7 linked regions of the Homo sapiens genome follow. The protein of the gene in region 1 interacts with the protein of each later gene in a biochemical or structural test. Each region holds a gene or a part of one and is shown on either strand. Other genes may lie near its edges. The genes, in order: PIAS1, PML, L3MBTL2, SUMO2, SIAH2, MDC1 and HTT.

Region 1 (3,500 bases):
TGTCATCTTTAGGAACTTAGAAGCAGGAGGGTGTGATGGCCAGATGATCTTGGTAGTTAATAAGCTGACAGCTTCATGAAACTCCTCTTAAAGTAATTTAAAAAAAAATATGTGTTTTTTTGGAGTAAAACTCAAACCAAGTTATAGTGCCATTTTAATTTACAGGAAGAAGAGTGGGAGAGAAGAAGTCCATCAGCATTTTAGTGGAGTAAATAATGAAATTAAATGGGAAGAGAAACCATAATTATAAAAGTTACTATGAGTGTGTCAGTGAATTCTATTGTTATTTTCTGCCTCTTTATTTTCAAGAAATAGCTACTTAATTTTGATCCTTACGCTGTAATTTGTCTGCTTTTATTTCAGATAGAGTCAAGTACATCTGATAGTTTATTCATGGATTTGATTTGAATCTCTATAACTTGCTTTTGTCAAGTGCCACATTTAGATGGCTTTTGTTTTATGTCATTATTTTTATCAACAGTATTTTAAAAACTCTACAGTATAGTTTATAAAATACTACGTATAGTTTCTAAGTATTTCATATGATTGTTTTGAAATACCTCCTTCTTTTCATCCACCGTTTTCTCCTGGGCGATCCCATTGTCTTTTTCTTCAAAGAGTTTCTTGTAATCCCTGTTGATTGCGGTAGTGCTTAGTGGCGAGTCCATAGCTGATTAACCTTGGGTGTCTCCTGGTGAACTCCATCAGCATGCTGCTCCAGGGTTCTTGCTGAGGCTTTTGAGTTTAGTGTAATTTGTACCCTTTTTTGCTGGTAACCAGGGATAAGAAAATAAAATGGCCAATGGTTGTAGCGGGAACTGGGAAAAAGTATCCAAGTCTCAGAAAAACTGGGTGTTTATGATGAGATGTAGCCTTTCAAAACAACAACCAAAAACGGATTCATTACTTCATAGAATTGATTGTGGTGTTTTCTGAAGTGTTTGACTCTGGCATGAAGCATCTTGCTTTTTTAATGTTTGAATAATAATATCTTACTTATATAGTACTTTGCAGTTCATAATATATTGCATTATCTCTTTTGATCTTTCCAACAGTTCTTTGAGGTAGGAAAGGCAAGTAATAACTAAATCCTTTTTATAGATAGAGAAAGTGAGCCCAGAAAGGGTACGTGACTATTGCAAGGTCATACAAATAAAAGTGGCAGGGACTTGAGCCTAGGTCTTGTGTAGTCCTCCTTAAAGGTCCTACAGCAGACCTGGAGTCCTCTAGGGTGCCCAGTTCACAGATTTCTACTTATGTTGTTGCTGATACTTTCCCTTTTGGAAAAGCTCTATGCTAGGGTATTTTTGGATATTCTAGGGCATTTTGCAAGCTTCCTTGCAAAAAGTTTGGAGTTTGTTAGTTGGAATCATACACATTAATTTTTGTAAGTATCATTTTGCTTGAGAAAATTTCAGAGAATCTGAGAAGTAAGCAGAAAAATAAACAGTACCTGTAATCCCAACACTCAGAGATATCATGGTTAACATCTGGGTATTTATCCACTTAAGACTTTCTCTCTGTGAGCATATGTATATGTATATTCATCATAAAAAGATACAACACTGTTTTTTATTTATAATCTGCTATTTTCATGTCTATCCAGGTTAGTAAATACAGGTCTATATGATCATTTGAAACCTTACATTGTGTTTTATTAAACTAGTCCCTGTCAGATTATTCTACTTTTTTTTTTTTTTTTTTTTTTGAGACGGAGTCTTCCTCTGTTGCCCAGGCAGTAGTGCAGTGGCGCGATCTCGGCGCACTGCAAGCTCCGCCTCCCGGGTTAACACCATTCTCCTGCCTCAGCCTTCGGTGTAGCTGGGACTACAGGTGCCCGCCACTACGCCCCGCTAATTTTTTTGTACGTTTTTAGTAGAGACGGCGTTTCACCGTGTTGGTCAGGATGGTCTCGATCTCCTGACCTTGTGATTTGCCCGTCTCGGCCTCCCAAAGTGCTGAGATTACAGGCGTGAGCCACCACCGCGCCAGGCCCAGATTATTCTCCTTTTTTTGCAGTGTGTTTGCAGACATGTACCAAAGTTTGCAGATGTTTTATTTTAACTAAATATATTGATATGACAGATCTTTTTTGTGCTTTAGAAAGCAATGCAGGACCGGATGCCATGGCTCACACCTGTAATACCAGCACCTTGGGAGGCTGAGGTGGGCGGATCACGAGGTCAGGAGTTGAAGACCAGCCTGACCAAGATAGTGAAACCCCGTCTCTACTAAAAATACAAAAAATTAGCTGGGCGTGGTGGTGGGCGCCTGTAATCTCAGCTACTCAGGAGGCTGAGGCAGGAGAATCGCTTGAACCTGGGAGGCAGAGGTTGCAGCGAGATTGCGCCACCGGACTCCAGCCTGGGCTACAGTGTGAGATTCCGTCTCAAACAAAAAAAAAAAAAAAAAAAAAGAAAGCAATACAAATGTTTATTTTATTTTTGTAGAGTCAGGGGTCTCACTGTGTTGCCCAGGCTGGTCTCAAATTCCTGGCCTCAAACAGTGCTGCCTCGGTTTCCCAAAGTGTTGGGATTACAGGTGTGAGACACTGTGCCTCTGTGCTCGGTTTTTACAGGTGTGAGGTACTGTGCCACTGCACCCACTCTACAAAATTAGCTAAAATGTTGTCAGTGAAATAAATTAGTCATTCTTGGTTTGTTCATTGTCATACCTTTATTGTTTATGTTTCTGTAATATGTGAGATAAGATTATTAAATGATGGCAGATACAGGTTTTACAAAATGTAAGCAAACATTACTTCAGCATCAGAATGTTTGATAAAGTATGAAATCGATTATGAAGTAGTATTTTATAATCTATTCATACTATTCTATGAATAGTAGAATTTCAAGTAGGCAAGTATGTTTGATTTTGGAAATTATATCACAGTGACCACATATTGCAAGTTTTTGTACCTTATTTAGATGCTTATCAGTTTTTTTTGTTTTGCTGGGATTACAGGTGTGAGCCACCACGCCCAGCTGATGCTTATCAGTTTTTAACTGGCATTTTAAAACTATATTGAACATTGCCAGACGTGGTAATCCCAGCACTTTGGGAGCCAAGGTGGACAGATCACGAGGTCAGGAGTTCGAGACCAGCCTGACCAACATGGTGAAACCCTATCTCTACTAAAAATACAAAAATTAGCCGGGCGTGGTGGTGCGCACCTGTAATCTCAGCTACTCAGGAGGCTGAGGCAGGAGAATTGCTTGAACCTGGGAGGCGGAGGTTACAGAGAGCTGAGACCGTGCCACTGTACTCCAGGCTGGGCGACAGAGTGAGACTCCGTCTCAAAAACAAACAAACAAAAAATCCCCCAAAAAACAAACACTATACTGAACATTAATATAGAGAAAATGGAAATAAGACTTTACCATATTTTTAATCTCAAAACAAAGTGTTGCCATTTAAATTGGGAGGTAACATAGTTTCAAGGATCCACAATCTCTGCCTCCGGGGTTCAGGCAATTCTCCTGCCTCAGCCTCCCGAGTAG
Region 2 (3,500 bases), 6.0 Mb from region 1:
TGCCTAACCAAAGTCAAGAACCACTGAATCGGGGGATTCATTGCATGTCTGTGGTAGAGGAATGCTGCTCATTTGTTTATAGATGTGGCAGTCTTGAATGCAGGTGACATTTTCATACCAGGGTGTAATACCGCAGAGGAGGGGAGAGGCTGGATCTTCCCTGATGTACCTCCTGGACTTTTGGAGTGTGATTACAATGCCAATCCAGCCACTTCCTCTGAGCATGCTTGGGACGACTGTTAGACCTGCTGTGTTGAGTTAGAATGCACTTGACCTGCTCAGGCCGTGAAATCTATGAGGAAGGGGAGTGAGATGGATGTAGCTCATGAGCCAGATTGCAGGTGTATCCAAGTTGCATGTATATCCTGAAAAAATCCTGGCTCTCACGAGGCTCAGCCTGAACACAGTTTTGCATTCAAAGAAACAATGTCCATTAACCAAGTATAATAAAGAAATAAATCCCAGTATTTACTTGCATCTTTTGAAAGAACATTAAAGGGAATCCAGCTCATAACCCCAGCAGCACTTCTTCAGTCCTTCTTCCCCTTTTCTTTGGCGCCTGGCATCTCTCACTGCATAGCAAAGCTTTCCCCCTTGATTCCCGGTCCTCACACGCAGGCTCAAGGCTCTGTTTCCCATCTTCTTTCTTCTGTCCCCCTTCCTTTTCTCTTCCAAGCAAATCTAAGTCTTTTCCAGTGACTGTCCCTCTCTATGCTCCCCCGACACCCAGTTATCCTAATTTGCGGAATAAGGCCAAGGTGTGGGGCCTGGGGGCAGAATGGGAGAGTCTCCCCTAGTGAGCAGGGAGGGGAGTATGTTCTGCACCAGGCCACTATGTCTGATGGCCCTGCTGGCAAACCTGAGTCTTTCAGAAAGTCTTGTTTAAATGCGTCAGCACTCCCCAGCTGTGATGCTGGAGTTTAAGGCGGAGCAGGGGAGAATTCTGGGTTTACAGCTGGCTGGAGTTCCAGTGAGACCAGCTCCATGGGTGGCCATACTTTATGGAAGTCCCCAAGGGCAAGAGGAATTTTGGAGGAAGTGAGTCAGGGCTGAAAGGTCCAGCCTCTCCTCCATTAACAAGCTTGGTGGAAAGGGGGTGTCCTTTTATTAAAGGAGACAGTAGAGGTTTCTTAGAGAAGGCAGCTCGAGTAAGTTTAGGACAAAGGACATTTCCCTGGCCCCGGGACAATGGAAGGCTCTAAAAACGAGGTTCTAGTGGCTGCCATAAATGACCCTGCTGTAACGATGGGAGGGGTGGCCTAAAGAGACAGTACTGTGGCTCTCCAGGGAGCTCTCCTCTTGGAAGAGCAGATCTGAAGGCGGGAAGACTGGTTCTAAGGCCGAGGACATTGCCCCGAGCTTTGTGGAGGCACTCAGGAACACAAAGGGGCATTTCCAGTTGGGTTTGGAGCAGGAAGAAGAACGAAAAAGAGAAAGTCCTGTGTGCCATGTCAGTGGGTGGCAGCATGGACTCAGCCTCAGCTATTGGCACCAAGGATCTGAACCAGGGAGGACCCAGAAGGGGAGCCCAGCCCCTCCACCAGCTTGTGGGAGAGCGCTGCTGCCCAGTGAAGCCTGGAGAGAGGAAACAACTGGATTCTCCCAAAGCGGGAGAAGGTGGAGTCTCCAGCCACCCAGCTACAAGCTAGGAAGACGCCTTGTAGAAGGCTCCTTACAGGGAGGAAACCGAGTTGGAAAGGCGAGACAGCAGTGTGGGCTCACCCGGAGCAAGACGTGTGAAATCAGCTTTTGACAGCGTGGCTGAATGAGGATCTGGAGATGCGAGGCGCTGGGCAGACTCTCTGACTAGATCCCTGGATATGAAGAGGCAAAGCCAGCTCTAGATGGATTCATAGTGAGTGTCTGCTTCTGACAATAACTGGCAGAAAGCTGATGAGCCTGGAGCAGGGCTGTGAAATGCAAATCCAGTGAAATCCAGCCACTCCTACAAAAACCCACCACATCTTAGGTTACTTGTGGGTGGAAACGCTTTTTCTCTCAGTTGAAGCTTGGTTGGAAGCAGATGTTTCACTTGGGCATTGGAAGGGTCTGGGGAAATGTGCTGCCTCCTAGGCCAGGGACATTAGCCAGAGGCCAGAATTAACTGAGGCTTTAGCACCAGGTGACACCAACTTCATTGAGAAGCCAGCGGCAGTCCATAAAGAGGAAAAACCCAAGGCCTGCCCTGGACTCTGTCCCAGCCATGCTCCCAATTGGCCCTGTGATCCTGTCCATGTCTCTTCCTTGCTGGTCTCTGGCTAACGTCCACAGGTGGCATTCATGGGAGGTTCCAAGTTGGTCATCAAAGACTAAACATCTGGGCTTGGCAGCTGAGCAGATGATAAGCAATTAACTCTGTATTACCATCAGAGGCTCCACCTCCCTCTGTAGTCCCAGTCCCTTGGGAAAATCTCAGAGCTGGAGCCCTTCCCTCATCCTCTGGCTCCCCACCCCATGGCTTCTCGAACAGTGTTCCCACCAGGACCTTGGGACAGGAGAGAACGCCTCACCTGAAGGACTCCCAAAACTCAGGTTTCTCTAAGCTGCTGGGGCAGATGCCAAGAGCCTCCACTGCTCTCTCACTGCCAAGGACCTGGGTGTCCACCTAGATGTGGCCTTCAGGAGGCCAAGCAGTCCTTCCCCTCGCCTTTGTGTAGGACACTGGCACCTCGGCTGACTTCGGGGACAAGAAAAGGCAGGCTCCCGACCCCTTCCAAAGAATCATCTGGGGTTCAAGATGAGGCTTCTTTCTCCCGTCCCAAGTTTTGGTGTTTCTTCTGAGTCTGCTCAGAAAGATGAAATTAGGAGCAGACATCTCAGGTCCTGCCTGCCATAGCAGATGGCTCCTTCCCTGAGCCTCCATAAGCAGCACAGCACACTCATGCACACACCCACTGGCATTTTCTCTCACACTTTCATACACTTGTGTCAACGCAGGTTCACAGCTCACACTTAACTGTGCATGCACACACAGATTTAGCACTTGGATTCATTCCCACACATGCACGTTCACAACCTGTGTGTGTCACCCTTCCTCCCCTACTCATGAGGGTGTATGCCCTGGTTCATACATGTAACCCTCACATGTGACACACCCAGTTCACACCCATTCATGCACACATACCTTCTCTTGTGCACACGTCCCCTTTCCCAGTGGTACACCCTCCTTCATGTGCACGCAGATGCTCCCAGCTATACCAGCTTGCTAGTGTTCTGCACAGGTGCTTGCCTTGGCCCTCTGAATCCCTGACGCTTGGTTTTTCTGTGTTGCAGTCCTCCCGAGAGCTGGATGACAGCAGCAGTGAGTCCAGTGACCTCCAGCTGGAAGGCCCCAGCACCCTCAGGGTCCTGGACGAGAACCTTGCTGACCCCCAAGCAGAAGACAGACCTCTGGTTTTCTTTGACCTCAAGATTGACAATGAAAGTGGGTTCTCCTGGGGCTACCCCCACCCCTTTCTAATTTAGTCTCTGAGTCCCAAAAAGAAGTGCAGGCAGAGCCA
Region 3 (3,500 bases), on another chromosome or scaffold:
TAGAGATGGGGTGTGGCTGTGTTGCCAAGGCTGGTCTCAAACTCCTGGGTTCAAGCAATCCACCTGCCTCAGCCTCCCAAAGTGCTGGGATTACAGATGTGAACCACCGTACCCAGGCTCTTCACACGTTTTCTGTTACATGCTGGGTAGATTCATATACATTATCTCATTTGCATCTCACGAGTCAAATATTTTTATTTTATAGATGAGAAAGTTGAAGCCCACAGAAGTTAAATGACTTGCCCAAGGCCCTATAGCTAGTTAGGCTCAGAGCTGAATCTAGCGCTGTAGTACACACCAAGATGCCACAGTTATCTGTGTGTCATCTGCCTCTCCCATCCTCTTTGGAGCAGTCTAGGTCCCAAATTAACTTTTCTGTGACTTAAATTGTTTCTGAGTTGAGATCATTTTGATGTATATTGAACGGGGAAGAATTTTTGTTTTTCTTTTTGAGACAGCATCTCACTCCATTACCAGGCTGGAGTGCAGTGGCGCGATCTTAGCTCGCTGCAACCTCCACCTCCCGGGTTCAAGCAATTCTCTGCCTCAGCTTCCCAAGTACCTGGGATTACAGGCACCCGCCACCACACCCAGCCAATTTTTGTATTTTTAGTAGAGACGGGGTTTCACCATCTTGGCCAGGTTGGTCTTGAACTCCTGACTTCGTGATCCACCCACCTTGGCCTCGGAAAGTGCTGGGATTACAGGTGTGGGCCACTGTGCCTGGCTAAGAATTAATTTCTAATATATCTTCTACCCCAGAAAGTCTTTGTGAAGTACCTTAGGATATTTCACTTTTTTTTTTTTTTTGAGATGGAGTCTTGCTCTGTCACGCAGACTGGAGTGCAGTGGCACGATCTTGGCCCACTACAACCTTTGCCTCCTGGGTTCAAGCAATTCTCTGCCCCAGCCTCCCAAGTAGCTGGACTACAGGTGCCCGCCACCACGCCTGGCTAATTTTTTCTTGTATTTTTTTGTAGAGACAGGGTTTCACCCTCTTGGCCAGGCTGGTCTCGAACTCCTGACCTCAGGTGATCTGCCAGCCTCGGCCTCCCAAAGTGCTAGGATTACAGGCATGAGCCACCGCACCTGGCCCACATTGTTATACAGTATTCTATTTGAACCATGTTAAAATATCATCATTTGTAAATCCACAGAGGAGCCTGGTGAATTCCTAACACATATTTTCTGTCTTGTTAAGCTGTTGAATTGCATCATGGTGGAGAAATGTGTAAATAGAAGTAATGATCTTGGTGTTTGTAAAAGGGGTATTTGAAAGGTTCCCGAAAGTGTGAGGGGGCTGATAGCAGATCTGCAGCTTCTCCCCCCGTGCACTAAAGCCAATCATAATTCTTTCTACCTGGTTTGTGTCATCCTCCATTAGGAGACCCCATCTTCAGAACCAATGGAGGAAGAGGAAGATGACGACTTGGAGCTGTTTGGTGGCTATGATAGTTTCCGGAGTTATAACAGCAGTGTGGGCAGTGAGAGCAGCTCCTATCTGGAGGAGTCAAGTGAAGCAGAAAATGAGGATCGGGAAGCAGGGGAACTGCCGACCTCCCCGCTGCATTTGCTCAGCCCTGGGACTCCTCGCTCCTTGGATGGCAGTGGTTCTGAGCCAGGTGCCTTCAGAGTGTCCCCTGAGGATGGAGAGGAGATAGAAGATTATAGAGGAAGAGGGGGGTGGATATAGGCTATATGGGCAGAGCCATCCAGATGTAAAAGGCTATTAACTCTGATTTCTAAGGGATCAGATGTGTAAGGACCTGTAAGGGAGACAGAAGCACCCCAAGTAGCCACTGTGTTAACTTCCTTTGCTGAAGTCTAATTTCTTTTTTTTTTTTTTTTTTTTTTTGAGACTTGAGTGTCGCCCTGTTGCTCAGGATGGAGTACAGTGGCATGATCTCGGCTCACTGCAACTTCCACCTCCTGAGTTCAAGTGATTCTCATGCCTCAGCCTTCCAAGTAGCTGGGACTACAGGCACCCACCACCACATCCAGCTAACTTTTGTATTTTTTTGTTTGTTTGTTTGTTTGAGACGGAGTCTCGCTCTGTTGCCTAGGCTGGAGTGCAGTGGCGCGATCTCGGCTCACTGCAAGCTCTGCCTCCCGGGTTCACACCATTCTCCTGCCTCAGCCTCCTGAGTAGCTGGGACTACAGGCGCCCGCCATGACGCCCGGCTAATTTTTTGTATTTTTAGGAGAGACAGGGTTTCACCACGTTAGCCAGGATGGTCTCGATCTCCTGACCTCGTGATCCACCCGCCTCGGCCTCCCAAAGTGCTGGGATTACAGGCGTGTGCCACCGCGCCAGCCTAACTTTTGTATTTTTAGTAGAGGCGGGGTTTCACCATGTCGGCCAGGCTGGTCTCAAACTCCTGAACTCAGGTGATCCACCCACCTCAGCTTCCCAAAGTGCTGGGATTACAGGAGTGAGCCACTGTGCCCGGCCCTAGTCTAATTTCAAATTGTGACTTCACTCATTCTTTCATATAACTAATGTGTATTCAGCACAGATTAGATGCCACTGAGTAGCATGGTGCTGCTTTTTTGTATAAGTATACCATGGATTTCCAACGTGGATGTTGAGAAGATAGGAAACCTAAAGTGTTTTGGTTACTTTCTGAGAAGGGACAAATAACTTGTGGTTTGGAAGTCAGGGTGGGAGTGGGAAGGTAATACACGATAAAGTGACCCTGGGTAGGAGGACTGGGTTGGGGGCGGGCAGATGAGAATCCCTATGGATCATCTGGAAGCCAGTTGACTTTGGAAATGTGATGCTTGGACAGCTGCTGAACCCCTGTGTCAGGGCCTCCCATGTGTGGGCTGCCTGTGAAGAGAGGCAGGCTGGATAGTCTGTGAGGACACTGCCATCCTTTAGATCCCAAACTTTTTTTGTTTTATTTTGAGGCAGGGTCTCACTCTGTCACCCTGGCTGCAGTGCAGTGGTGTGAAAATGGCTCACTGCAGCCTCGACCTCCTGGGCTCAGGCAATCCTTCCACCTCAGCCTCCTGAGTAGCTGAGACTACAGGTGCACGCCACCATGCCTGGCTAATTTTTGTATTTTTTTTTTGTAGAGACAGGGGTTTTGCCCTGTTACCCAGGCTGGTCTTGAACTCCCAAGCTCAAGTGATCCCCCACCTCAGCCTCCCAAAGTGCTAGGATTACAGGCATGAGCCACCGCACCCAGCCCCAAACTCGTTAGAAGAGTAATCTAATACTCTTTGCAGTTGAATCTTATTTCCTTTTTTTTTTTTTTTTTGAGACGGAGTCTTGCTCTGTCACCCAGGCTGGAATGCAGTGACATGATCTTGGCTCACTGCAAGTTCCGCCTCCCAGGTTCAAGCCATTCTCCTGCCTCAGCCTCCCCAGCAGCTGGGACTACAGGCGCCTGCCACCACACCCGGCTAATTTTTTTTGTATTTTAGTAGAGACGGGGTTTCACCATGTTAGCCAGGATGGTCTCGATCTCCTGACCTTGTGATCTGCCCTCCTCGGC
Region 4 (3,500 bases), on another chromosome or scaffold:
ATTTTCAGTAGAGGCGGGGTTTCACCATATTGGCCAGGCTGATCTTGAACTCCAGACCTCAGATGATCTGCCTTGGTCTCCTAAAGTGTTGGAATTACAGTGTGAGCCCCCGAGCTCAGACTGGAGTCTTTAAATGGGCATTTTTTTCCTTTAAATTTCCTGTTAGTGGCCAGCCAGGCGGATCACGAGGTCAGGAAATTGAGACCATCCTGGCTAACACGGTGAAACCCCATCTCTACTAAAATACAAAAAATTAGCCCAGCATGGTGGCATGAGCCTGTAGTCCCAGCTACTGAGGAGGCTGAGGCAGGAAAGTCACTTGAACTCCGGTGGTGGAGGTTGCGTTGAACTGAGATTGTTCCACTCACTCCAGCCTGGGCGACAGAGCGAGACTCCATTTAAAAAAAAAAAATTTCATTTCCTTGTCTAACTCATTTAAATGCATATTTGTCTCAAGGTATGTTCTATTTAACATTATAGTAGCTGTGTCTGAAAAGCAGTAAAGCTTTCTAAAAGAATGACTTACTGGCTGGGCGCAGTGGCTCACACCTGTAATCCCAGCGTTTTGTGAGGCTGAGGTGAGTGGATCACTTGAGGTCAGGAGTTCGAGATCAGTCTGGCCAACATGGTGAAACCCTGTCTCTACTAAAAACACAAAAATTAGCTGGGCATGATGGCAAGCGCCTGTAATCCCAGCTACTCGGGAGGCTGAGGCAGGAGAACCACTCGAACCCAGGAGGCGGAGGTTGCAGTGAGCCAAGATCGCACCACTGCACTCCAGCCTGGGCGACATAGCAAAACTCTGTCTTAACAAACAAACAAAAACAACAACAACAAACAGGCCGGGCACAGTGTCTTATGCCTGTAATCCCAGCACTTTGGGAGGCTGAGGTGGTCAGATCATCTGAGGTCAGGAGTTCGAGACCAGCCTGGCCAACATGGCGAAACCCTGTTTCTACTAAAAAATACAAAAATTAGCCAGGCATGGTGGCGCCTGCCTAGTCCCAGCTAATCAGGAGGCTGAGGCAGGAAAATTGCTTGAACCCAAAAGGTGGAGGTTGCAGTGAGCCGAGATCGCGACACTGCCCTCCAGCCTGAGTGACAGAGCAAGACTCTGTCTCAAAAAAAAAAGAAAAGGAAAAAAAATACTACATCTTACTGTTCACTGAAAATGAGAGGCTGGGCACCATGGCTCACTCCTGTAATCCCAGCACTTTGGGAGGCTGAGGCGGACGGAGCACCTGAGGTTAGGAGTTCGAGACCAGCCTGGCCAACCTGATGAAACCCAGTCTCTACTAAAACTACAAAAATTAGCCGGTTGTTGTGGCGGGGGACCGTAGTCCCAGCTACTCTTGGGAGGCTAAGGCAGAAGAATCGCTTGAACCAGGAGGTGTAGGTTGCCTTGAGCTGAGATCACGCCACTGCACTTCAGCCTTGACAACAGATCAAAACTGTCTCAAAAAAAAGAAAATGAAAATCACCCCAAATCTTTTTACCTATAGGGTATGTTAACATGTTGGCAATTGTTTATTTAGGTATTTCTTTAATATATTCATGGTTAAATATGCATGTACTTTTATGTAAATAGAATTCTGTTTCTCTTAATGCTGTTTATTGCTTTTAAATTCTCGTTCAGGGATTGTCAATGAGGCAGATCAGATTCCGATTTGACGGGCAACCAATCAATGAAACAGACACACCTGCACAGGTAAAAAAATCTCTCCTAATTAGAAAAATTACCATTTGTAATTCTTTGAACAGCTGTGTTTATGAATTTGAACGTTTAGACACTGGAGTATAAGTTCTTGTAGAGTTCAGAGCTTTGGGAAGTATGACCAGAGGGGAACAGAAAGGAAAATAGGAATAGGCTCAGGAAATGCCAATGGTTTTTATTCATTTATTTTTAATTTTCATTTTAATTATTTTTTTAGGGACAGGGCCTCTCTGTTGCCCGGGTTGAAGTGTAGTGGCCTCATTATAGCTCACTGCAGCCTTGGCCTCCCAAAGTGATGGGATTATAGGCACGAATCAATGTGCCCAACCCCACCAGTGGTTTGTGTTTGTTTTTTGTGACGGAATCTCACTCCATCGCCCAGGCTTGAGTACAGTGTCACGATCTTGGGTCATGGCAGCCCTCGCCTGCCATGCTTAAGCAATTCTCCTGCCTCAGCCTCCCAGAGTAGCTGGGATTACAGGCATGCACCACCATGCCTGGCTAATTTTTGTATTTTTGGTAGGGATGGGGTTTCACCATGTTGGCCAGGCTGGTCTTGAACTGCTGACCACAAGTAATCCGCCCGCCTTGGCCTCCCAAAGTGTTGGGATTGACAGGTGTGAGCCACCGCACCCAGCCAAATCCTCACCATTTTAGTTCTACATGCTGAATTGAAATTCTCTTTTACGTGTCTTCATGAACAAAAAGGAACTAATAGCCCTAATTGCCACGTCCCATAGCTTTGTTTGACAGGGAGAGCCCCTGATAATAGGAGATTTTCCAGATCCTTACTACAAAACGTGATGCTCTCTGATCCTTTAACTCTTTATGTACCACTTCATTTTGTTCTGTCACTTTCTGTAGGATCAGCTGGATTGTCTTCTGTGGCAGAAGCTCTTTGTTTCTTTTTACCCTTTCAAAGTTCCATTAAATACTTCCAGTTTTGTCCTAGCAGGGTGGCTCATGAGAGCCATTTTCAAGATTACAAAGTGCTTGTAATGCCAGCACTGTGACGCCAAGGTGGGCGGAGCACTTGAGTCCAGGATTTCAAGACCAGCCTGGGCAACATGGCAAAACCCTCTCTTTACAAAAAAATACAAAAATTAGCCAGGGAGCAGTGGTACGTGCCTGTAGTACCAGCTACTTCTTAGGGTGAGGTGGAAGGATTGCTTGAGCCCAGGAAGTGGAGGCTGCCGTCACCCAAGATGGTACCACTGCACACCAGCCTGGGTGACAAAGTGAGGCCCTCTCTCAAAAAAAAAAAAAAATGACTTCCAGTCTTGTCCTGACTTGGTGGCTCACACCTGTAGTCCTATCACTTTAGGAAACTGACACTGGCAGGAGGGTTGCTTGAGGCCAGGAGTTTAAGACCAGTCTGGGCAATATAGCAAGACCTGGTCTCTACAGGAAAGAAAAAGAGCTGGGCATGGTAGCATGTGTCTGTAGTCCCAGCTTCTTGGGAAGTTTAGTGGGAGGGGTGCTTGAGTCCAGGAGTTTCAGGCCGCAGTGAGTTATGATCATACTACTGCACTCCAGCCTGGGCGATAGAGCAAAACTCTGTCTCAAAAATAGAAGACTTACAGTTTCTGAAACATATTTTACAATGTTGTGATAGTAGAAATTTAAATTGGATCCCATGTACTTTTGAATTTCAACTTTATCACCCAGTAAAAACTAGAAAGTGATAAATGTGGCATGAAGCAGCACATCCAGATTGTAGTTTTGTTGATAATCTTTGAAAATTGGAAAAGCCCCTGAGTTGTACTGAAAAGAAGAATATTTTGAA
Region 5 (2,772 bases), on another chromosome or scaffold:
CACCTGCCGCAGCCTACCCAAGTGCTGAGATTACAGGTGTGAGCAGCGCGCCTGGCCTCCTTGAGGTTTTATCCCCACTGTTTCCTCCACTCACCCTGTGCTAGAACCAGATGGAACAACTCCATCCACAATCCACTTGTCTACAATAAAGCTTTCCTTACCATGTCCTCCTCACCCTGTCCCACCTTGAAATCACCTGTTGCCCTCCTGGTCTTCCTTTACATAGTTGTTAAATTTATTATATGGTCTTTCTCAACTGGAAACACCACAAGGGCAGGATCCACAGCTGATTCCTTCTGTGTGCTCTAGGATAGAGGTTCTCAGCCCTGGAAACTCTTAGAAACCCTTGGAGCTCTTCAAGAAAACACAAGCCCAGGCTGGGCACAGTGGCTCAAGCCTGCAATCCCAGCACTTTGGGAGGCCGTGGCGGGTGGATCACGAGGTCAGGAGATCGAGACCATCCTGGCTAACACGGTGAGACCCCGTCTCTACTAAAAATACAAAAAATTAGCTGGGTGTGGTGGCAGGCACCTGTAGTCCCAGCTACTTGGGAGGCTGAGGCAGGAGAATGGCATGAACCCGGGAGGCGGAGCTTGCAGTGAACCGAGATCGCGCCACTGCACTCCAGCTTGGGTGACAGAGCAAGACTCCATCTCAAAAAAAAAAAAGAAAAGAAAACACAAGCCCAAGGCCAGGGGCCAGTGAGACTTGGCTTTGCTGCTCAGAAGCACCTAGACAGTTTTACATACAGTCTTGGGGAATTCACAAACTACTAAAGTCCTCCCTCGGATCCCTGGATGAGAGCCCCTGATGAAAGTGACAAAACACCCATGGTGCTCTGACATGCCATTCCAGAACAATGCCAAAACTGCTTGAAGTATGAAATGTGGGGTGTGTGTGTGTGTGTGTGTGTGTGTGTGTGTGTGTGTAGGGGGTTAAAATTTAGACTTTAGTCATCATAAAAGTGGCACCAGTTGTTATGAAGACATGAACCTTACCCATGATGGAAAGAGAAGGGATAGATTGCCATGAAAGTTCTGCTTGTTCAGTAAAAGCAGAGTAAGCACCTAAGGCTTTAAAACTATTTATTTAAGTTAATAGAGGATGTAGCAAGATCCTTATGAAAAAACATGAGATCGTTGTCCACACAAATGCAAAGTAATGCCTTTTCTATTTGTGCAGTTTGGGGAGGTTCCCTGTTCTGTATATTTGGGTGGAAAGAAGTGTTGAATATGTGATTTGTAAGGCAAATCAAATAATTCAGAGTATAAATACTCCTACTTGAGTGGGGAAAGTTATAAAATGATTGCCAAGTGATAAATATTTGCTGTAAATGTTGAGTTCGTCATGAATGAGGAGTGGTTTGGGACTTTGGGCAGAGGTGCAGCTGGTACCTTTCTGGGTGCCATTGGCCAAAGTTCATCTCATTCCTGGGCAGCTATGGGGAAAAGTTCGTCTTGAAACATCTTCAGATATTGAGAGCTTGTTTCGAGACTCTGCCAGGCTCTGGGCTATTTCTTGCTATTTTTATTGTGTGTGTGTGTTTTTTTAAACTGGACAGAAATGTCTCACCCATCACTCACAGAAGAACATGAGGAGGCTCTGTATTCCTAGCCACACCCTAGATTTAAAACACAGTTAATAGGGATTTGTTTTTCAGGCCTTATAAAGTAAGGAACACAAAGTATGAATACACATGGATAAATAAATTTGTTTCTCCTGAGTGAGTTTTTTTACAGCCAGGCTTTAGAAATTAGTTCAGAGTTTTAAAAGATGAACAAACAATTCCTATGGGCAAATAAGTAACTGAAATATTTCTGCCAATTTCTGTTAAATATTATAATCCGCTTAGGTATGGGGAAGTGGGGGTTGGAGGATGAGCTACATTTCTTTCTTTAAGCCACTCTCCTTTCCGATTAGGGGAGACTAATCCCCCTGAGAGTGGAGGCTGTCATCCTTGCTTCGGAATCCTCTGAGTGACTGTAACTTAGCGTCTTGTATGGAGAAGTCACATAGTGCATACCATCTGCTTGTTGCTAGTGATAAATTCATCTATGAAGGTTAGAATTTGACCGACTTCAAGTTTAAAAGGGGGATTATTCTATAAAGCAGGGTAGAGAGAAGCAAAAACAGCAGTGGTGCTTTTTTTTTTTTTTAGCAACTGGACATAGCATCTTAGAAAAATGACCTGGCCTTGCCCTTATTTGGTGCCTTCATGTCTCAGTGGAGCAGGGGAATCCAAGTGTAGTTAGCCAGACAGTTCCCCTGCCATTCTGTGCTCCAGGGGTCTAAGGCTGACACCTAGTTTCACCTGAAAAGGTGATTCAGGTTTCTTAATTCTTTACAGAACAGCTTAGTACTCAGGGCAGGTGTCTACTTGTGGGCTGATCTCCATCTGGTATCTAGGAATTAACACTGTCATCCTTGTGAGAGTCTGGAGTAGAAGTTCAGTTCCTCTTGGTGTGGTCTTTTGCCACGGCAGGTATGATTTATCCATTAGGAATGTCATCCCAAGTGCAAGGGAGAAAATGATTTTGTTCTCCTACCCTATTAAGGCAGTGTCTGAGGGGCAGACTGATCATGTCAGCAAACTTGTCTAGTTCTGCTTCCTCCCGGGCCTGTTGTGAGGACCTGACATACCTGACCATGAAATGATGTGCTCTTGAATCTGAGGAAGTGTTGGGGGTCAGCAAGCTTTGAGAGGAGGGTTAGGCCCTTCTCATGTTAACCTCTACTGGCCAGAACCAGACTGACCAGTAGTCTTCTGAGTTA
Region 6 (4,104 bases), on another chromosome or scaffold:
AATCCCAGCACATTGGGAGGCCCAGGCGGGAGAATCACCTGAGGTCCGGAGTTTGAGACCAGACTGACCAACATGGAGAAACCCCGTCTCTACTAAAAATACAAAATTAGCCGGGCGTGGTAGCGCATGCCTGTAATCCCAGCTACTCGGGAGGCTGAGACAGGAGAATTGCTTGAACCCAGAAGGCGGAGGTTGCGGTGAGTCGAGATCGCGCCATTGCACTCCAGCCTAGGCAACAAGAGCGAAAGTCCGTCTCAAAAAATAAAATATAGATGGCCGCATGCGGTGGTTTACGCCTGTAATCCCACCACTTTGAGAGGCCGAGGCGGGCGGATCACCTGAGGTCAGAAGTTCGAGACCAGCCTGACCAACATGGAGAAACCACGTCTCTACTAAAAATACAAAAATAAGCTGGGCGTGGTGGCGCATGCCTGTAATCCCAGCTACTTGGGAGGTTGAGGCAGGAGAATCGCTTGAACCTGGGAGGCAGAGGTTGCGGTGAGTCGAGATCGCGCCATTGCACTCCAGCCTGGGCAACAAGAGCAAAACTCCATCTCAAAAAATAGATAAATTAGTTAATTAAAAAATAAAAATAAATGATTTTATGATCCTTCCCTCGCCCCTCGAAAGGTGGGGACAGCCTTTAAGACAGAGAGCAAACCAGTTTTCTCTGTTCGACTACAGATCTTTAGGATCTTGGATTTAAGAAAATGACCTCAAAATGTCCGTCAGAGACGTATTCCCAGGAAGAAAGATATTACTTCTACTACAAACCAAATCAAAAGGAAATGAAATTCCAATGCAACAGGAGTGAACTGCCACGCCTACGGGCTGTTCTCCAAACTGCAGCCTCCAGCCACGACTGCAACGCGCAACCCACTTTCATTTCTCATGAGTCAGCGGACACCATGTCTAGGAGGACCGAGGAAAGGCGCTCTGGCCTTACCAGACACGTCGGACGTCTATGACACAGCCCCTCTATCCGTTGCCGGCAGCTGGCGCCAGACTCTCTGGTCGCGGTTTGGAACTGCGCGGGAAGTGGGTGGTGGGCGGGCAAGCGGTAGTGGGTTGTCCCTTGGAGCTGCCCAATCGACGTGCATTATTCTGTTGGCGCACGGCGGCCTTCAATTACCGTCTCATTAACTGATCTCAGCAGCCTGGGAGACACCACCTATTTGAACTCTAAGGGGGCGGGGCTTTGGGTGTGCCTCCGCTCGACTGGCTGCGGTTGTGAAAGACAGCGGCAGAAGCCAATCAGCAAATAAGCTCTTTTTCGGCACACGCAGTCGCTCCACCTGGGTCGCGACCGTTACTGGTGGCGCGCGCGGGGACTTAAAGTAGGTGAGTTCTAGGGGCCTGGCCCACGGCTCCCCGGGAGCCATCTTGGTTCCCCCAGAAGGCGGGAGGGGCGTACCTTGGGTGCGACTGGGCGGAGGTGACTTGGAAGTTCGCTTCTCGGACTGTAATACTCATCCTTACCTGGCGCCCCGCTCCGAGTTTAGGTATGAAGACACAGGGAGACGTCGGGCCACAAGGGAACCCACTGAGGTGGGGACCAAAGATGGTGGCTCTTTGAATTGGAGCCAAGCGTGGTGGGCACCCGCTGAGTTGGCCTGTCATAAAGACGGAGTTGACACTTTATCCATGGGGCATCCTACTTTCCCTACCTGTCAACAGTTTCCCTCTAGAGTGGCATATTTTCAGGTGAATTCCATTTATGCTATTTTCTTTCCATCTCATTTGTTCCTTCATCAGTAGGCTCGGTGATGAGCCTTCCCGAGGGCAGGGTCGATTTCATGTTTGGTTCACAGATGTATACCAAATACTTCAAACAGGTATACCATAACCATTGAATGAATATGATGGACCCTAGGGGAAAGACACGGTTCCCCTAATCCAGTCCTGGAGGTGGGTGAGTGTGAAGGCAGAAATGGAAAGTAATGGTTACAATATAGCGAGAGATCTTAGAGTAAGCACAAATCCATTGACCACTGTGGAACAGGCAGGATACACCAGGAACACGAGAAGGCAGGGAACACGCCAGGAAAGGGTTTGCTGAGAAAGTGACATTTGAGGCCGGGCGCGGTTGCTCACTGCTGTAATCCCAACACTTTGGGTGGCCAAGGTGGGCGGATCACCTGAGGTCAGGAGCTCGAGACCGTGGTGAAACCCCGTCTCTACTAAAAATACAAAAATTAGCCAGGCGTGATGCCGGGCGCCTGTAATCCCAGCTGCTCGGGAGGCTGAGGCAGGAGAATCGCTTGAAGCCTGGAGGCAGAGGTTGCAGTGAGCCAAGATAGCACCACTGCAGTCCAGCCTGGACGACAGAGCGAGATTCCATCTCAAAAAAAAAAAAAAGAAAGAAAGTGACATTTGAACTGAATCTTAAAGGATGGTAGAAGTTGGACCAGAAAACTAGGTGGGAAAAAGCCAAGGAATTGGGCTAAGGCATGAAGATGTGGGAAGACAAGAACAGTGTGTTCGAAGACTGGGGAAAATGTCTGGCTGAACCATAGGCTTTTGCGGGCGAGGGGTAGGCGTTACAAGATGTGAAGTTCAGATCATGGAGGGTCTCGCTAAGGAGTTTAGATTTTATTCTGTGTGCACGAAAAACCATCAAGATTTTAGAGGAGAGACATCTGAGTGATTTGGGGCAAGTCTTAACCTTATATATGCTTATGTATGTTTCAAGGAGATCTGAAAATCTTAACCCAGCTATGTTGCAGTTTCTTTATCTGAAGAAATGGAAGATAGTAATACTACTTTACAAGGTTCTTGTGAAGATTAAATGAGTCAGAGTCGATATAAAGTAATTAGAACAGTGCTTGACACATAGGAAGCTTCTATATATGTCATCTTTTATTATCATTTTTTGCAGTTGCATCTGATCAAACTGAGGTGGTCTGGTAAAAGTATAAAAAGCATGGGCTAAAAAAGAAAGAAAAACAACGGGGCGCAGTGGCTCACGCCTGTAATCCCAGCACTTTGGGAGGCCAAGGTGGGCGGATCACCCAAGGTCAAGAGTTCGAGTCCACCCTGGCCAATATGGCAAAACCCCATCTCTTCTAAAAATACAAAAATTAGCCAGGCATGGTGGCAGGTGCCTGTAATCTCAGCTACTTGGGAGGCTGAGGTGAGAGAATTGCTTGAAACCCGGGAGGCAGAGGTTGCCGTGGGCCCAAGATCTTACCACTGCATGCCAGCCTGGGGAGCAGAACGAGACTCCATCACAAAAAAGAAAAAAATGTTTTAAGTGCTTCAGAAGGTTAACAACAGAAAGATTGGTGGAAAGAGAAGCATCAACGTTCATAATGATCCAGTTTACCCCCTAGTTTTCAGTCTGATAACTCTGATGCTGTTTGTGTGAACCAATAATGAGGATAATTGATAATGTGTATCCTTCCCAGATCATGGAGGACACCCAGGCTATTGACTGGGATGTTGAAGAAGAGGAGGAGACAGAGCAATCCAGTGAATCCTTGAGGTGTAACGTGGAGCCAGTAGGGCGGCTACATATCTTTAGTGGTGCCCATGGACCAGAAAAAGGTCAGAGGGTATTGGATGTTCAAGTATTGATATAGATCTTTTATTTTTGTGGTAAGGTATTTGGAGGGTTGCAAGAAGCTTATGTATGTTTCAATGAGATGTGAATTTTTTTTTTTCATGAATGGAAGAGATGGGGCCGATTGAGTTGATAGTTGCAGACTACTACCCTGGACTCACTGGAAGTGATTTTACTTTGATAAAAGAAAATTAAGAGATTGAAATGAAGCTGGGTGCAGTGACTCACACCTGTAATTCCCGTGCTTTGAGAGGCCAAGGCAGAAGGATCACTTGAGACTAGGAGTTAGAGACCAGCCTGGGTAGCATAGCAAAACCCTGTCTCTACGAAAAATTTAAAAATTAGCCAGGTGTGGTGGTTCATTTCACATCTGCAGTCCCACCTACTTGGGAGGCTGAGCCAGATGATCACTTGAACCCAAGAGTTCAAGATTGCACTGATCTATGATCATGACACTGCATTCTAGCCTGGGTGACAGAATGAGACCCTGTCTCAAAAAAAAAAAAAAAATCAAATAAAATCCAATTGTGTGCTCTGGAGAT
Region 7 (3,500 bases), on another chromosome or scaffold:
AGGATGAACTGTACACATCAGTTCATCCTTTTTAAATGAGCATGAGGTTATTTTGGGTTGTTAGGTGTTACAAACACACTAATGTGTTTTTGTCTATTAGAGCAGCATGGCCCAGTTGCCAATGGAAGAACTCAACAGAATCCAGGAATACCTTCAGAGCAGCGGGCTCGCTCAGAGGTAATGCTGGAAACACAGGTCGTCCTTGTGTTAGGACAACCCAGGATATAAAGGATATAGATTTGTACGGGAATAAATTCACAGGACAAGAAATCGATGTGCCTTATAGGTGGGTTTACTGCAGAAGTGCCATAATAGAACCTTCCTACTTTTAAAACAACCAGATCTCACTTTCTAAAGAGTAAAGGATGACCGGCAGGATCACGTCTGTGACGTGAGTGGAGGCAGTTTGCACTCCTGGTGGCTGTTTGAGAGGTAGCATTTAGAATGCCTGTATTCACTGTCCTGTGATGAGTGGGAAAATAGGTTATCAGGTTTATCTTAGCAAAATCAAAGCATGTCATCTAATTGCTAAACAAGAGTTGGCAAATCTGAGAGACATTACTCAATCCTTGGCATGCAGGACTTACATCTGCATCCTGTTGCCATTTTATGTCTTCAAAGCATTTAATCATTTAGTTGTGTTTGCAAAGTCTTTGAGAAGCCTTTGTCAGAAATCCCTACATCTCCTATGTGAGTGTATTTCCATGACTGCAGAATAAGTTAAACTTTTACCTTTTTCCTTCCCTTGCGGGGCGGGGTGGGGGGCAGGGATTGTGTGTGTGAGAGGGAGAGAGAGACAGCAGAGAAGGAGAATATAATTATCATGCTGTGTACTTTGAGCTGAAACTGCAAAAAAGGAAAAACACACAAAAATTATTATGCTTTTCAGTCTTTAGAGTACCTTGTCTATTATGCTTTTCAGTCTTTAGAGTACCTTGTTGATGGTGTTTTTAAATGGGATTGGGCACAATTAGGTGGACAGTTTGGGATGATTTTTCAGTCTGTAGGGCCAAGCTCTTTTGTAATTTGCATTATGAAGTTGTCACTCTCATAGCAGATGGCGGGAGATAAACTATTATTACTTTTTGACCCTAGACTTAGTCTTCAGTCCAGATGAGGGAGATTAAAAGATTATAAATATCTTGTGCCAGATGAGGTGATTTTATTTTGAAATGACCATGAATTCCTATCAGTTGTCTTACTGGGATATTTGATAGTGGAATTTGTGCATTTGAGTCTTAGATGATCTGTTTTACATTTATTAAGAAAGCCTTTATTAGCTTTTATACTGTGTATTGCCTGTTGCAGTGTTTGAGTATAAATGAAATTTCTGGAAAATATTAATGGAGTACAAACTGTGATACTTAAAAGTAAACTAGGGCCTGCATTTGTATCATGACCTGTTTGAGTATTGATGAGAAGATAGCTGTGAAGAAAAAGGTTTAAACAAGTGTATTTTCCTTTAAGAAGCCACTAATAGTGCATCTCCTTAGAGTGTATATTTCTAGAATCCTAGTGTGCAGAGTTTAGACTAAGACTAAAAAAAAAAAAAAACAAATTATACTGTAATTTCATTTTTATTTGTATTTTAGACACCAAAGGCTCTATTCCCTGCTGGACAGGTTTCGTCTCTCCACCATGCAAGACTCACTTAGTCCCTCTCCTCCAGTCTCTTCCCACCCGCTGGACGGGGATGGGCACGTGTCACTGGAAACAGTGAGTCCGGACAAAGTAAGTGTCCAGCGTGTCTGCATGGGAGGCACAGGGCGCTGAGTGCCTCTGTCACCTGTGGCAGATACAGAGAGTGCAGAGGAGGTGCCGTGGACCCAAGGAGTTCTGGCGCTCGGCTCGGCTCAGTGAAGCTGTGGTTAGAGACGTGGGGGGCCATCAAGGTCTGAGGGAGCCAAGCAGTGCTGATGTGGGACCCTTTTGGTAGGAGTGTGGGGTGAGTAGTTAGTGGGTGAATCAAGGAATAGTCGGCCGTGGCCTGCAGGCCCCTGACTGCACAGGCCTTCAAGCACATGTCAATGCCGTTAGCCTCCCTCCATCTCCTCATACCTTCTGGCCACCTGTGAGTTGCACTGCCACTGCCAGCCATTCTGGTATGTTGTCAGCACCTCCACTGCTCATACCTCATGGTTAGGGACCACCTGGAGCCTTGGTAGAGCCTTGGTAGAGCCTTGGTACTCTACTTTCCTGGACAAAGTTCAGCTTATGAATATGAATTTAGATTTCAAAAACCAGCAGCCCAAGTATAAGAAAGCGAAGGTTCAGTCCTGCCTTCTTAGGCTCTATTCGCTAAGCACCTGCCCTGCCCTGGTTGCTGGGGAGAGATGAGTAAAGCAGACAACCCAGGAGAGGATGGCAAAGGGGCCGCTAACCCTTAGTGGTTTAGCTATATTTGGAAGGCCTATTGGAAGTTCACCAGGTGAAGGGGGAGGCTGTGAGGGTGCCCAGGCAGGTAACAGAAGTCCAAAGGGGAAAACCTGTGGTGTGGTGAGCCGTATAGCCACAGCCTGCCGGCCGGCAGCCCTCTCAGCCTAGTGCGGTGTTCCCAAGCACTGGCCTAGGCCTGTAGCTCCAGGGATGTGAAGTCCCCTTGAACGCCGCCCATCATGTTCCCCTTATCCATTTTTTTCTTCCCAGGACTGGTACGTTCATCTTGTCAAATCCCAGTGTTGGACCAGGTCAGATTCTGCACTGCTGGAAGGTGCAGAGCTGGTGAATCGGATTCCTGCTGAAGATATGAATGCCTTCATGATGAACTCGGTACGGGGGGAGCAGTGGAGGCAAGGAATCCTCAGCTTTTCTTGTGACTTCCAAGTGGGATTTGTCTCATCATCATGTGACCCACTTGTTGACAACACATGTTGGGGACTCCAGTCTGGGCAGGGACGGGATGTCGGAGAGACTCCACTCTGAATGGGGCCGGGAAGTGGGGAGGACTCCATTTCAGATGGGGTCGGGACATGGGGGTTATGCTGATCGAGACAGAAAAGCACATTGTTTCAGCCACATTAGAATCCACGGAGGTGTTGTTTTGAAATCCAGCTGGCCCCAAGGCTGGGTGTATGGTTTGGGATGAGAACTATCTGGCCTCCACTGGAGGAACAAACACAGGATGTTATCATCTAAGCTCCATGGCCAAGACAGAATGGAAGTCAAGGTTGCGTATTTGCCGTAGACTTCAACACAGTGTCGTAATGCGTGACGTCAATAACTTGTTTCTAGTGTCTTGGAAGTTGATCTTTAGTCGTAAAAGAGACCCTTGGATGCAGCGAGATTTCCTCTACTCACACCTCTGTTAGATGTAGTGAGGTTCTTCACCCCCCAACCCCAGATGTCAGAGGGCACCCTGCGCAGAGCTAGGAGGCCATGCAAAGCCTTGGTGTCCCTGTCCCTCACCCGTGGGCAGGTCCTGTGAGCAGTGGGGGGGCCACCTCTTGGGTATGGTGCAGCCATGGCCCAAGCAGGGCTTCTTCTCAGACCTACTAGGACGG

The links.
Region 2: of the proteins of PIAS1 (region 1) and PML, one has a biochemical effect on the other in vitro, tested with the Homo sapiens proteins (one study listed by BioGRID).
Region 3: of the proteins of PIAS1 (region 1) and L3MBTL2, one has a biochemical effect on the other in vitro, tested with the Homo sapiens proteins (one study listed by BioGRID).
Region 4: the proteins of PIAS1 (region 1) and SUMO2 form a complex in vitro, tested with the Homo sapiens proteins (4 studies listed by BioGRID).
Region 5: the proteins of PIAS1 (region 1) and SIAH2 form a complex in vitro, tested with the Homo sapiens proteins (one study listed by BioGRID).
Region 6: of the proteins of PIAS1 (region 1) and MDC1, one has a biochemical effect on the other in vitro, tested with the Homo sapiens proteins (one study listed by BioGRID).
Region 7: the proteins of PIAS1 (region 1) and HTT form a complex in vitro, tested with the Homo sapiens proteins (one study listed by BioGRID).

What each region holds. Positions count from the first base shown.
Region 1 is NC_000015.10:68,057,315-68,060,814, forward strand, and holds part of PIAS1 (E3 SUMO-protein ligase PIAS1), read left to right. Parts: intron 1-165; exon of another isoform or gene 166-215; coding exon of another isoform or gene 216-266; intron 267-3,500. UniProt on the Homo sapiens protein: Functions as an E3-type small ubiquitin-like modifier (SUMO) ligase, stabilizing the interaction between UBE2I and the substrate, and as a SUMO-tethering factor. Catalyzes sumoylation of various proteins, such as CEBPB, MRE11, MTA1, PTK2 and PML.
Region 2 is NC_000015.10:74,039,716-74,043,215, forward strand, and holds part of PML (protein PML), read left to right. Parts: intron 1-3,273; coding exon 3,274-3,424; coding exon of another isoform or gene 3,425-3,465; exon of another isoform or gene 3,466-3,500.
Region 3 is NC_000022.11:41,208,312-41,211,811, forward strand, and holds part of L3MBTL2 (lethal(3)malignant brain tumor-like protein 2), read left to right. Parts: intron 1-810; exon of another isoform or gene 811-1,384; coding exon 1,385-1,622; exon of another isoform or gene 1,623-1,640; intron 1,641-3,500. UniProt on the Homo sapiens protein: Putative Polycomb group (PcG) protein. PcG proteins maintain the transcriptionally repressive state of genes, probably via a modification of chromatin, rendering it heritably changed in its expressibility.
Region 4 is NC_000017.11:75,172,960-75,176,459, reverse strand, and holds part of SUMO2 (small ubiquitin-related modifier 2 isoform a precursor), read left to right. Parts: intron 1-1,636; coding exon 1,637-1,708; intron 1,709-3,500. UniProt on the Homo sapiens protein: Ubiquitin-like protein that can be covalently attached to proteins as a monomer or as a lysine-linked polymer.
Region 5 is NC_000003.12:150,743,398-150,746,169, reverse strand, and holds part of SIAH2 (E3 ubiquitin-protein ligase SIAH2), read left to right. Parts: intron 1-2,772. UniProt on the Homo sapiens protein: E3 ubiquitin-protein ligase that mediates ubiquitination and subsequent proteasomal degradation of target proteins.
Region 6 is NC_000006.12:30,714,482-30,718,585, reverse strand, and holds the start of MDC1 (mediator of DNA damage checkpoint protein 1), read left to right. Parts: upstream 1-1,304; 5' UTR 1,305-1,341; exon of another isoform or gene 1,342-1,644; coding exon of another isoform or gene 1,645-1,704; intron 1,705-2,878; exon of another isoform or gene 2,879-2,998; intron 2,999-3,407; coding exon of another isoform or gene 3,408-3,410; coding exon 3,411-3,546; intron 3,547-4,104. UniProt on the Homo sapiens protein: Histone reader protein required for checkpoint-mediated cell cycle arrest in response to DNA damage within both the S phase and G2/M phases of the cell cycle.
Region 7 is NC_000004.12:3,207,181-3,210,680, forward strand, and holds part of HTT (huntingtin), read left to right. Parts: intron 1-100; coding exon 101-177; intron 178-1,592; coding exon 1,593-1,731; intron 1,732-2,646; coding exon 2,647-2,769; intron 2,770-3,500.